Linked DNA regions of Homo sapiens. The protein of the gene in region 2 interacts with the protein of the main gene of each other region in a biochemical or structural test. Each region holds a gene or a part of one and is shown on either strand. Other genes may lie near its edges.

Region 1 (2,777 bases), on a different chromosome or scaffold from region 2:
CACGTTAACACCCTGGCTTTGGTCCTTCCTTATCTTCTCTTTGCCTTTATTTAAACAATATGGAGTACTAAATCCTCTGATGGGTACCTGAGGGGCCTGCTCTTCCAGTTTGCAAATAGGGCACCCTGAGGCAGTATGTAGCAGGACTTCTGCTAAGAGCCTTTGAAAGAAAGATCAGGGGAACTTCCAAAGCTACCATAAATTCAACAGCTGTGACTTAGGAATATAGTGGATCATTGAAAAAAAAAAAAAGATTCTGATTTAAGAGAGCTGATCTTCAAGTTATATCCTCAGCCTGAAAACAGAGGCAGTTTTAAAACAGGGATTCTTTAGTTTTCTCTTCGGAGACCAAACAGATGAGAGCTACCACCACCCACCTCCCACAGCTCCAACAGTACCACTAAGGACTAAAACTATAAAAGTCATTCCTTAACTGATAGAATTAAAAGTAAAAACAAATGAACAAAATCTGAAATAATTAAGTTCTGGGAATACAACTGTTTAACCATTTCTTTGTATTTTTATTGATTTTTCTTTTTTAATTTCTGCCCAGTTACAACAACGAAATGGGAAACCACAATTAAAATTCACAAACCATGGCATGAAAAACAACACGCACCCCATCAGGAATTACACCAAACCCCTTTTCCTTTTTATTCATTCAAAAGAGAGTCCAATACACAAGTGTCAAATATGAGCACTGTCATTTTTTTTTTCTTAGAAGGGGGAAAAACATTTATTTTGGCAGTGCTTTGACAATTCCAGGAAGTGGTTTTGATACCACAAGTTGCAGGAATAGAAACCCTAACAAACTTGGAGGGCATTTGTTTGAGAGGCAAGGGACGCCTTGCTTAGAAAACATTCCTCTTGTGCTTAGTGAATCACCTATCGCCTCGGTGGGCTGCTGTGTCTTTCCAGGTGCTGAAAGAGAAAACGGAATTTCTTGCATAGACAGCTGAAGAGTCCTGTAGAGCAGAGTGATTTTTGTATCTCCAACCCTCCTCCCAACTTGAAACAAATTCTCAAGCTTCTCTGGAGCATCTTTTGGTCACATGACCCTCGATCATGGTAACCCTTTTGCTAAGACACATGTGACACCAAGGTTTCCTCTGACACTGCTTCTCTAGGGTTCAGATGACAGCATAAAACATCACTGGTCAAAAATATTAGATATTAAGAATGTGGGCGTTTATGTTCGTAACAGCAAATACTTTGTAGGGTGTGTCACCCAAAGGAGCATTTTTGTCATTTAATATGGTCCCCGGGGAGTTAGCCCAAAATCATACAAATAAGCCTTTTTCTAAAGACAGGTCAAAGTTGGTTAATTTAACAGTTGAGGAACCGTCTCATGCCAATTAAAAAATTCTTACTTCCCAACTATTCAATGGTCCAAAAAGCAATTAAATGTGACCATTCAGTTTTACACACATGCACACACACACACACGGAGACGCGCACACACACACGAGAACTGTGACAAAAGGATTCACCAGATTAATCTTGTGACTGTGTTCTAAAAGAAAATGAAATCTCAAACTTGAGGTGTCCTATTCAAGTATTAAAAAAATGCAAACATCGTCTGATCCCATTCGATTTTTATCATCATAAGAAATCATTCTCTGAACTGCAGGTTCTGGAGTCAGTGAAATTAATGCCTGGGGCACAAAATATTCTACAAAAATCGGTTTGTGATTTCTAGCAGGGCAGTCGCTTGCTCCTTATTTCTTTTAAAAAACATGTTGAGACTTTGTATACTGTAGCCTTCCAAGAGTCAATACTTTACAAAAGAAGTAAAAGAGTAGCGAGTACCAGCAACTCACTCTTCTTGTCTGAGGCTGGCGAGAAGCAGTCAGTTTTATACATTTTCGATCAACCCACGGAGGAGGCAAATGTAAACAGAGTTTTTTACACTCTCCGAAAAACATGTTACTACTGTAGCATATGCTGTTTGGCCCAATTAAAAGTAGAATGGAGAGCAATTTGTTTGGTTGGCTTTTTAAGTTTTACCTTGTGAAGATTTTAAAACAAGGGTATTACTAGTTCTTGGCAGGAGACCGTCCAATCAGAGGCTCTGTATTTATAAATAACCCGTGTGGGATTATGCTCTCCAGTGAATGTAACTGGAGCCTAAATTCACAACCTTAAGATCTGACAGCCAGATGTGGAAGGTCTACAAAGAGCTCTGCTAATAAGTAATATGTTTGCAAAGTGCTCTGCTAAGTAAGGTACTTATTAAGCAGAGCACTTTGTAAGATTCAGAACTGACTCCTGATTATCTTAAGCCATTAAAAGACTCAAGTTTTGCATGGACTTTTTGTCCTCTTTGGCCCCTGAGTGTGCCCCATCTCTGCCCAGCACTAATAACACGTTGGAAGAGCAAAGGATTTCCCACCAGCGTGCCAGATGATTTATATAGGCAGGGACCTTCATTGAAAAGAAGGGAAGGGACACTGTCTTAAATGCACATTTAAGGTTCTTTCTGATTATTGGCAATCTCTATGAACCAACACTTAATCCATGGGCTAACAGAGAGATTTTTTTTTTAATGTGAAGAGGATTAAAGAATAAAGAAAAAACAAAAAAGTCTTATACTAAAATAAGAAATCAGCCCCATCTTGGCACAGTTCTCATGCAGAATATTGCACCCAGTGTGAACTAACGCTAGAAGCTTCAAACTGTATAAATTTAAATGTATTTGCATATTATAAAAATAAAGATAAACATATACATATTTTACACTAGTTATGGAACAGCAATGAACGTCAGTCGATCCCTCT
Region 2 (4,825 bases):
ACAGGCCAGGGACCCACAGGAGAGTGGATTAGAGCACAAGTCTGGCCTCACTGAGTGGACAAGAGCTGATGGGCCTCATCAGGGTGACATTCACCCCAGGGCAGCCTGACCACTCTTGGCCCCTCAGGCATTATCCCATTTGGAATGTGAATGTGGTGGCAAAGTGGGCAGAGGACCCCACCTGGGAACCTTTTTCCCTCAGTTAGTGGGGAGACTAGCACCTAGGTACCCACATGGGTATTTATATCTGAACCAGACAGACGCTTGAATCAGGCACTATGTTAAGAAATATATTTATTTGCTAATATATTTATCCACAAATGTGGTCTGGTCTTGTGGTTTTGTTCTGTCGTGACTGTCACTCAGGGTAACAACGTCATCTCTTTCTACATCAAGAGAAGTAAATTATTTATGTTATCAGAGGCTAGGCTCCGATTCATGAAAGGATAGGGTAGAGTAGAGGGCTTGGCAATAAGAACTGGTTTGTAAGCCCCTAAAAGTGTGGCTTAGTGAGATCAGGGAAGGAGAAAGCATGACTGGATTCTTACTGTGCTTCAGTCATTATTATTATACTGTTCACTTCACACATTATCATACTTCAGTGACTCAGACCTTGGGCAAATACTCTGTGCCTCGCTTTTTCAGTCCATAAAATGGGCCTACTTAATAGTTGTTGCAGGACTTACATGAGATAATAGAGTGTAGAAAATATGTTCCAAAGTGGAAAGTTTTATTCAGTGATAGAAAACATCCAAACCTGTCACAGAGCCCATCTGAACACAGCATGGGACCGCCAACAAGAAGAAAGCCCGCCCGGAAGCAGCTCAATCAGGAGGCTGGGCTGGAATGACAGCGCAGCGGGGCCTGAAACTATTTATATCCCAAAGCTCCTCTCAGATAAACACAAATGACTGCGTTCTGCCTGCACTCGGGCTATTGCGAGGACAGAGAGCTGGTGCTCCATTGGCGTGAAGTCTCCAGGGCCAGAAGGGGCCTTTGTCGCTTCCTCACAAGGCACAAGTTCCCCTTCTGCTTCCCCGAGAAAGGTTTGGTAGGGGTGGTGGTTTAGTGCCTATAGAACAAGGCATTTCGCTTCCTAGACGGTGAAATGAAAGGGAAAAAAAGGACACCTAATCTCCTACAAATGGTCTTTAGTAAAGGAACCGTGTCTAAGCGCTAAGAACTGCGCAAAGTATAAATTATCAGCCGGAACGAGCAAACAGACGGAGTTTTAAAAGATAAATACGCATTTTTTTCCGCCGTAGCTCCCAGGCCAGCATTCCTGTGGGAAGCAAGTGGAAACCCTATAGCGCTCTCGCAGTTAGGAAGGAGGGGTGGGGCTGTCCCTGGATTTCTTCTCGGTCTCTGCAGAGACAATCCAGAGGGAGACAGTGGATTCACTGCCCCCAATGCTTCTAAAACGGGGAGACAAAACAAAAAAAAACAAACTTCGGGTTACCATCGGGGAACAGGACCGACGCCCAGGGCCACCAGCCCAGATCAAACAGCCCGCGTCTCGGCGCTGCGGCTCAGCCCGACACACTCCCGCGCAAGCGCAGCCGCCCCCCCGCCCCGGGGGCCCGCTGACTACCCCACACAGCCTCCGCCGCGCCCTCGGCGGGCTCAGGTGGCTGCGACGCGCTCCGGCCCAGGTGGCGGCCGGCCGCCCAGCCTCCCCGCCTGCTGGCGGGAGAAACCATCTCCTCTGGCGGGGGTAGGGGCGGAGCTGGCGTCCGCCCACACCGGAAGAGGAAGTCTAAGCGCCGGAAGTGGTGGGCATTCTGGGTAACGAGCTATTTACTTCCTGCGGGTGCACAGGCTGTGGTCGTCTATCTCCCTGTTGTTCTTCCCATCGGCGAAGATGGCCCTGGAGACGGTGCCGAAGGACCTGCGGCATCTGCGGGCCTGTTTGCTGTGTTCGCTGGTCAAGGTGTCAGTCGGGGACCTGGTTGTAGGGCCCATGGGGGACCAAGGTCGGGGAAAGAGGGCGGAATGGGGCTGTGGGACAGTAAAGAGAAAAGTTAAGTCTCAGAACTCAGAGGTGGCAGGGGGAGTGAGAAGCCGAAGGAGGCCATCGTTTACCTCGTAGGATCGCGGACAGGTCTTGCAGCTGAGGGCAGGGGCGGTCTTACATGCCTTTGAATCCTCAGCTCTTAGACGTTCGGTGAACTTACGTTGGAGCCGAAAGACACTGGGAGTCAGAGGCGGGTGGGGATCCGCTGCTGAGTGAGTAGTCGGAAAGGATGCCTGACCCTGAGTAGACTAGAGAAAGGAATAGATAAAACGGAATTGGGAACGAGAGAGGAAGGAGTGGGAGGGTGGGACTTAGGAATGAAGCTTTGAGAGTAGTAGGTGGGGAACCTTAGGATACACAGTCAACATAGGGAAACAAGAAATTGAGCAGGTCGAAGTATTGAGAAAGCTACTTTTTCTCTTGGTCTTGTTCATGCTTATCTCTCCTTTTCCTTTATTTTTCTTTCACTCCCAGACTATAGACCAGTTTGAATATGATGGTTGTGACAATTGTGATGCATATCTACAAATGAAGGGTAACCGAGAGATGGTATATGACTGCACTAGCTCTTCCTTTGATGGGTAAGCCGCTTCAGTTTCCATCATTCACTTCTGCATTACCCAACCTGCACCCAGAGAAGTAAATGCAGGGCAAGTGTTAATCCTAGTTGGGCCCAGCCATTCGTTTTTGGGGGTTATTTTGTGTGGGTTTTTTTTTTTTTTTTTTTTTTTGAATCAGGGTTTTGCTCTGTGGCTCAGGCTGGAGTGCAGTGGCATGATCATAGCTCACTGCAGCGTGGAATGATCCTCTGACTTCAACCTCCCAGAGTGCTGGGATTATAGGTGTAAGCCACTGTGTCCAGCCTCAACAGTTATTTTGGGACATACTAGTGCTATGCATCTAATACAGTGACCACTATCCACGTGTAGCTACTGAGCACTTGAAATGTGTCTAGTCCAAATTAAGACATGCTTTTAAGTATAAAATATACCCCAGATTTCAAAGACTTAACATGAGAAGAAAGAATGTAATCTTAATAATGTTTGTTAAATGCATGAAAATTTTTTTTGAAAATGAAGGGAAGGGAGGTGTAGTAATGGTAGATCATTGCCCAAAAGCTGTTGCTTTTTTTTTTTTTTTTTTTTTGGACAGACTTTTCGCCCTTGCCACTCATGCTGGAGTGCAATGGTGCAGTCTCGGCTCACTGCAACCTCTGCCTCCTGGGTTCAAGCAATTCTCCTGCCTCAGCCTCTTGAGTAGCTGGGATTACAGGCACCCACCACCACTCCCAGCTAATTTTTATATCTTTAGTAGAGACGGGGTTTCACCATGTTGGCCAGGCTGGTCTCAAACTCCTGACCTCAGGTGATCTGCCCACCTCGGCCTCTCATAGTGCTGGGATTACAAGTATGAGTCACCATGCCCGGCCCATTTTAGCCATTTTACTTATTTATTTATTTATTTATTTATTTGAGATGGAGTCTCGCTCTGTCGCCCAGGCTGGAGTGCAGTGGCGCAATCTCGGCTCACTGCAACCTCCGCCTCCCAGGTTCAAGCAGTTCTCTGCCTCAGCCTCCTGAGTAGCTGGGATTACAGGCACCTGCCACCATACCCAGCTAATTTTTGTATTTTTAGTAGAGACGGGGTTTCACCATGTTGGTCAGACTGGTCTTGAACTGCTGACCTCGTGATCCACCCGCCTCGGCCTCCCAAAGTGCTGGGATTACAGGAGTGAGCCACAGCGCCCGGCTGCAATGGCACGATCTCAGCTCACTGCAACCTCCGCCTCCTACCTCAGCCTCCTGAGTAGCTGGGATTACAGGCGCCCACCACCACGCCCAGCTAATTTTTGTACTTTTTTTAGTAGAGACAGGGTTTTGCCATGCTGGCCAGGCTGGTCTCGAACTCCTGACCTCAGGTGATCCTCCCGTCTCAGCCTCACAAAGTGCTGGGATTACAGGCATGAGCCACTGTGCCCGGTCGCCATTTCTAAATACACAATTCAGTGGCATTAGTGCATACTCACTGTTGTGCAACCGTCACCACCATCCATCTCCAGAACTTTTTTCATCTGTACCCATTAAACACTAGCTCCTCGTTCTCTCCTCCCTCCTGTCCCTGACAACCACCATGCTTTGTCTCTATGAATTTGGCCACCTTAGGCACCCTTAGGTACCTATGGGCTCATTCAGTAGCATTTTTTAGCTTCTTTCACCAACATAATGTCTTCAAGGTTCATTCATATTGTAGTATGCAACAGAATTTCCCTCCTCTTTTGAGCTGAATAATATTCCCTTGTATGTGTATAGCATGTTCTGCTGCCCATTCATTCATCAATGATATCTTGGGTTGTTTCTCCCTTTTGGCTATTTGTGAATAATACTGCTGTGAACATTGGTATACAAATATGTGTTCAAGTCCCTGCTTTTCATTATTTTCAGTACAGATGCACCTCAACTTCCGAGGAGTTACAACCTAATAAGCCCATCATAAGTTGAAAATATAAGCCAAAAGTGCATTTAACACACCCAACCTACTGAATATAATAAGTTAGCCTACTTCAAATGTGCTCAGAACGCTTATGTTACTGTGGCTGACCAGAAGCTGTGGCTCATGGCTGCTGCGCAGCATCATGACAGAATATTGTACTGAATTGCTAGCCTGGAAAAGAACAAAATTTAAAATTTGAAAACGATTTCTATTGAATGCATGTCACTTTTGCAAAATCATAAATTTGAAAAATCATAAGTTGAACTAAGGTAAGTCAGGGATCATCTGTATATCCACAAGTGAAATTGCTAGATCATATGA

What was found.
Region 1: the proteins of SUPT4H1 (region 2) and MFHAS1 form a complex in vitro, tested with the Homo sapiens proteins (one large-scale study listed by BioGRID and IntAct).

What each region holds. Positions count from the first base shown.
Region 1 is NC_000008.11:8,782,854-8,785,630, forward strand, and holds the end of MFHAS1 (malignant fibrous histiocytoma-amplified sequence 1), read right to left. Parts: 3' UTR 501-2,777; downstream 1-500. UniProt on the Homo sapiens protein: Probable GTP-binding protein. Functions in innate immunity and more specifically the inflammatory response as a regulator of the Toll-like receptor TLR2 and TLR4 signaling pathways.
Region 2 is NC_000017.11:58,349,172-58,353,996, reverse strand, and holds the start of SUPT4H1 (transcription elongation factor SPT4), read left to right. Parts: upstream 1-1,795; 5' UTR 1,796-1,861; coding exon 1,862-1,930; exon of another isoform or gene 1,931-1,998; intron 1,999-2,082; exon of another isoform or gene 2,083-2,262; intron 2,263-2,488; coding exon 2,489-2,595; intron 2,596-4,825. UniProt on the Homo sapiens protein: Component of the DRB sensitivity-inducing factor complex (DSIF complex), which regulates mRNA processing and transcription elongation by RNA polymerase II.